Regions from separate parts of the Homo sapiens genome. Here region 1 is linked to region 2. The links come from fine-mapping of genetic effects on gene expression. A gene starts in region 2. The other region holds a variant in brackets. All regions are shown on one strand. Distances are from middle to middle.

Region 1 (2,922 bases), 88 kb after region 2:
TATATTGCTCTCAGTGTGAAATAATAAGCCAATTTCTATACATTTGCTTAAAAAAATCAGTCAACAGCCGTGTAAGTTTGGTTAGTATACATCAGTCAACCACTCCTGAGTCAAAGTATAAAACTGAGTTTCTATGCACTGAAAGCTAAGAACAATGCTCCTACGCACAGCAGCTCCACCAAGACGTATCCTGCTTATAACGCACAGGCTTTATGTGCTAAGAGTTTTTGTCTCTTGCAATTCAAAAAAACCTTCCTTGAGTTTCTTCCCGTGACCTTAGTCTGCTCATTCACGTATGCGTAAGAACTGTGCTGCATTATACTTTCATCCTCCATATTAACTTCACTTTGAAGGCAAGTAATGGCAAGAGACCACCATTCAAGCCCCTTCTGAGCTACAACATTTACAAATAAACAGTCCTTGACAGTTGAATGAAAAATATATGTAATGAAAAGGTTTCACTGATTTCTGAAAAGATTCCAGAAATCTGAAACTCTTCTTTCCCTTTCAATAAACCCCTTTGCAGAATTAATTTTTATTTTTCCCACAATTGTTCTCCAATTTTTAATCAATGTATTAGCTTAATGAACAAAAATTCATTCACTAGAGCAATTGTCTTCACATGTAAACAGAATTCAAAAATTTCACTCTTGTTTATTTATACTTCATATTAATCTAGAAAGGATGTGAAAAATAGATCAATAAAAAAAAATTACTTACCTTTTTTTCCTTTTGCTGGATTCTCCACAGCGTTCATCATCACTAAAATCAGAATCATAGCCTCCATGACCATGCATCTGTAAAGGAGTACAAAGTCAGCTATTTAGAATCTATGTTGCCAATTGTCCAGGAAACAATAATTCAAAAATAAGTTATCTTAAACAGCCACAATAGTTTTAAAGGATCATTGTGGGCAGATTCCTATTCACAGGCCATCTAGCCATCTAAAACTTTCATTCGCTTTTAAATAAGAGACATACCTTTCAGGAAATGCATCAACATTTTTCACCCTTAATTATCATTAGGTGAACAAAGAAGGCTACTCTTTGATCTTTTCACTGAAAAACCAGGCCTAAAAGCTGCAGTGACTGCTTACAAGGTTTAGCAATCCTTCACTTTTGATTCAGAGTAGTAATAATCACTGTGTGTTTATCACCAACTTTGTTCTAGACATTGTGTTAAATACTTTACAAACAACACTTCTAATTCTGCAAGTTAGAAAGTTATCTTCATTTAGGAATGAAGTAATCAAAGTTAAGTAAATCTATTTACAAATCCAGTAAGTGGCTAATCTGCTGTACTTGAT[T/G]CCTGCGCCCACAATTTCAATTACTCCAAATTTCCTCTCTGGAATATGATTTACTATATTCCAGGAGAATTACAGTATTTGTGAACAGTACATCATCAATTGATGAAAATTTTCCTGTAATCTTTTTCAATATATGTAGAGATTTCCATTTTCTTTTGAGTTTCTTTAAGGTAAACCACCTTGCCCTTTGGATTAGTCAGCTTTCTCTTGTTTCATTTTATTTATCCAGTTATTTTTGGAGAGTCTCGCTCTATTGCTCAGGCTGGAGTGCTGTGGCGCCTTGATGGCTCACATCCTCAACCTCCTGGGCTCAATCAATCCTCCCACCTCAGCCTCTCCAAGTAGCTGAGACTACAGGAGTGCATAATCACACCTGGCAAACTTAAAAAAATTTTTTTTTTGTAGATAAGGGGTTTCGCCATGTTGCCCACGCCGGTCTCAAACTCCTGGGCTTGAGCAATCCGTCCACCTCAGCATCCCAAAATGCTGGGACTTCATTTTAGAACTGAAATTCTTAGAAATGCTGGAAGACCTCAGTTGCCACTCAATTGTATTGGAAGAAGCTCCTAGTTCCAGCTTTGCACTGAATTTGGAACACACACTAAGAAGGAAGGATGGACTATTTGATGTCATACATAACTAATTTACATGGCTGGAAGGAACAGTCCAGGTTAAATGATATATCAAATTGTTAAAACTAATATAACGACAGCAAGTGCAGCTGGAAAAAGAGGAAAGAACTCTCTAAACTTCATTGCATTGGATCTAGGGTAAACGACATGTTTCTAGTCCTGGCTACCTTGAATAAGTCATTTCATCTCCCTGGACTTCATCTATTAAATAAGATAGCTACATGAAATAATCTTTAAGTTGTTTAAATCTTTAAATAACCTTTAAAGTCTGTAATTCCATTTTCAAACATAGGTGTGTGGGTATATACCTCTCTTCTCTGCCCCACTAAAATCCTAGATAGGAAGATGCTAGTTAAGGTTGGAGATGAAGGTTTGAAAGCCCGAGTTCCAACTCTACCCTCCCTTACATCTGTTATTGCCTTACACACCTGGATTTTACACCCTTTTTTAGGTCAACTCCAGCTGTCTTACCACATCTGTTCAAGCCATATTGTCCTCTCACTCTTTGTCCTATGTCCTCACGTTCTTTACATCTTGATGGGGGACAGCTGTAGTGTGTTTAGAGATATATTCTAGGATCAGCCTACTAGATTTCACTGCTTGGCTCTGCACTTTCCATTTGTCTTTCTTTGGGCCTGTTCCTTAACCTCTCCAAGCCTCAGTGTCCTCATTTATAAAAAGAGGCTAGTAAGATGGCTGACCTCATACGAATGGAGATTAAAAGAGTTGCCTCATCTAAAGGGTTTTAACGGTGTCTTGTACAGTGAAACCCAGTAAATGTTACATCATCATCATCATCTTTTCCCTCGCCCCAGGACACGACTTCCTATTCTTGCTCCCACTCTCCCATTTCTTTATTCGCTGGCCGCTCCATCCGACCCATACCTATCTTAACTCACTGGTTGAACTAAAAAGCTCTCACTCACTTCAGGCCTACGAATCAACTGACAAGAGCGGGGAGAAACTCAAAAACGGAGATGCCAG
Region 2 (2,854 bases):
AGGCTGACACAGGTGGATCACCTGAGGTTGGGAGTTCAAGACTAGCCTGGCCAACATGGTGAAACCCCATCTCTACCAAAAATACAAAAATTAGCTGGGCGTGGTGGCACCCACCTGTAGTCCCAGCTACTCGGGAGGCTGAGGCAGGAGAATCACTTGAACCTAGGAGACGGAGGTTGCAGTGAGCTGAGATCGCACCACTGCACTCCAGCCTGGCAATAGAGCGAGACTCAGTCTCAAAAAAAAAAAAAAAAAAAAAGAAAAAGATTACTATCTAGAGAGGTAAATCTTAGAGAACTCAATGAAACTCATAGGGTTTCTATTTTTGAAGCAAACTTAAATGTGGGTGTAACAATAATTTTTAGAGTCACTGTAACATGTGTGTGTTTTCCACTTAAGAGAATTTGTCATATTAGGTTTGTAGCTTTATTGAAGTGTTTAAAACACCTTGACTAAGTTTGAAACCAACATTTAAGTATCGAAGGCAATTGGTTCATGAATTAATAGTTTGAATTATTAGTTGCATAATAGTGTTTAAATATTTGAGGAAATGTGTTTAATAGATGTAAAAGCTTAGTAAAGTGAACATTAAACAAAACTAAGTAGTGGTAAGTGTTCTTTCTATGCCAGTAGCCCCTGAGACGTTAAGGATCCTAGCAACAGACAAGATATCTATCATCTAGTAGATTTAGTAGACTGTATGTTGTAGCAAAATCGCATGACCTCTGGCTATTACTATTGAAAACAAAATCCTAACTAAGATACTTAGCAGAAAAACCCAGCCAGCAACTATGTAGGTTACCTTTTGTAATTACAGTCTCTCGACAAGGGTTATTATTCAATTCATGACTTGATTAGGTTTGGATCATTGGCAAATATTTTGCTATGTTCACCTCTTTAGTAATAAGCTTGAGGTTTACTCCTTTAAAACACTTCTGAGGTCAAGCTTTCTGAAGTGACAGGGATTGAGAGGTGAAGGTTCTAGAGAAAGAGGAGGCCAAGCAACCTTGGTGATCAAAAGACTTTTAAGAAAAGGAAAGATTAATATTCACCTTTATGTTGCAGTGATGCAAACTGTTCCATATCTCCCAGATGTTCATTACAGTTGCTATATAAACAAAAAAAATCCAAGCACTTCCGAGGTCTAAATAGTTTTACTTCCTATAGCTATCATACAAGAACGATTCAAAGTGCCAATTGTTGCCAATGTCGTGTCATTCATGGATATGTCAGTGATTCTTCCTTGCTGTGGACAGCAGCCGACATTCAGTTATTTTTCTGGAATAGACACCTCAGCTTGCTACTTGCTGGGCTGATCTAAGATACTCTGAAGATTCGCTAGGGACTTATGAGCTACTAATGCTCAGGGATTTAGTGTCCTGAAGAACTCTTTAATCCTGTGCTTCCTGAATCCCACCCTAAGCCAGGGCCTTCTGTCACATCCCAAGAGTTACAGGCAGTTTGAAAGCTCTGCTTTCTGCTTGACCTTTGGAAGTCCTATGAGGGACCATTTACGGTTTCCTCAGTAATTTCCACCAGGATGAATTTCCTTCTCATCACTCTGCCTCAGGTAGTGCTCTGAAGGTCGTCCTTTCTGAACAAACGCAGCAAAGCAAGCCACACCATGGGTGAGATCAACCAAGTTGCCGTGGAGAAATACCTGGAGGAGAACCCTCAGTTTGCCAAGGAGTACTTTGACAGGAAGTTGCGGGTGGAGGTGCTGGGAGAAATCTTCAAGAACAGCCAGGTGCCAGTCCAGTCCAGCATGTCCTTCTCTGAGCTGACCCAGGTGGAGGAGTCAGCCCTGTGCTTGGAGCTGCTGTGGACCGTGCAGGAGGAGGGGGGCACCCCAGAGCAGGGGGTTCACAGGGCCCTGCAGAGGCTGGCCCACCTGCTCCAGGCTGACCGCTGCAGCATGTTCCTGTGCCGGTCCCGGAACGGCATACCTGAGGTGGCCTCTAGGTTGCTGGATGTCACCCCCACCTCCAAGTTTGAGGACAACCTGGTGGGCCCTGACAAAGAAGTTGTGTTTCCATTGGACATTGGGATAGTGGGTTGGGCTGCTCACACGAAGAAAACTCATAATGTCCCAGATGTGAAAAAGGTAGGTGGCCTTATGACAGTGGGGCAGAGGTCTTGGCAGGGTCAGGGAGGAACAAATGGGAAAGAGAGATAGTGCTATCCTTGTGGCATTAGTTTGGCAATAACCGGGGGAATGTGGGTGGCAGGGAAGAGGATCACCCAGGCCTAGTGTTGCCAAATTTAGCAAATGAAATTTCAAGTTGCCCAGTTGAACTTGAATTTCAGATAAACAATGAATTATTATTTTCTGAAGTATAAGTATGTCCCATGTAAAGTTTGGCATTTTATCAGGTGATCCTACCTGGCCCTGGTGCATTCCACACACCCTCCCTTACGCCTCCTCCAGTGCTCTGGGGGACTTTCCTTCTCAGCAACACCAGCAAAACAAACTACCCCACTAGGGAGATGGGCCAACGTGCCCAGATGCCAAGACTTGTGAACTGCTCCCCATGCCTCTCATTCACAGTCCTTCGAAAACATTCAGGTTTTTTGGATGGATTTGCTAGTAAATCAATTCTTTCATCTATCGACCAAATGTGCAAAGAGAAAAAATGATGCCATTTGAAAGTTCAGATGTTCAAATTTGGAATTCATTACATATGTGAATTTAGGTGATGGTTAAGTGCAATTGACCACTCCCACTGCTCCATAACCCAGATCTTTCAAGAATGAATTCCAATCAAGTAAGTGGGACATTTGGACCCTCTTGAAGACCAACAGCATACTGCACAAATACAAGGCATTGAGATGCCCCTTATAGAAATAGAAAAAC

Alleles and levels. Alleles are on the strand shown, and positions count from the first base shown. SD is a standard deviation of normalised expression in the study named.
For the expression in cerebellar hemisphere of the gene that starts at base 1,436 in region 2, allele G in region 1 goes with a higher level than allele T (small effect, 0.35 SD a copy in GTEx).

What was found. PIP is the estimated chance that this variant, and not a neighbour inherited with it, causes the effect.
Region 1: its variant is fine-mapped to the expression of PDE6C in cerebellar hemisphere (GTEx, PIP 0.93).

The regions. Positions count from the first base shown.
Region 1 is chr10:93,699,310-93,702,231 of GRCh38, forward strand. It overlaps FRA10AC1 (FRA10A associated CGG repeat 1), which reads right to left. Exons shown (of 14, transcript NM_145246.5): 2 at 721-797. The coding sequence starts at 797. Among named protein-coding and RNA genes, the nearest start is that of FRA10AC1, 1.8 kb to the right of the region's middle. The variant T/G (reference allele first, on the strand shown) is at 1,307.
Region 2 is chr10:93,611,102-93,613,955 of GRCh38, forward strand. It overlaps PDE6C (phosphodiesterase 6C), which reads left to right and starts at 1,436. Exons shown (of 22, transcript NM_006204.4): 1 at 1,436-2,104. The coding sequence starts at 1,625.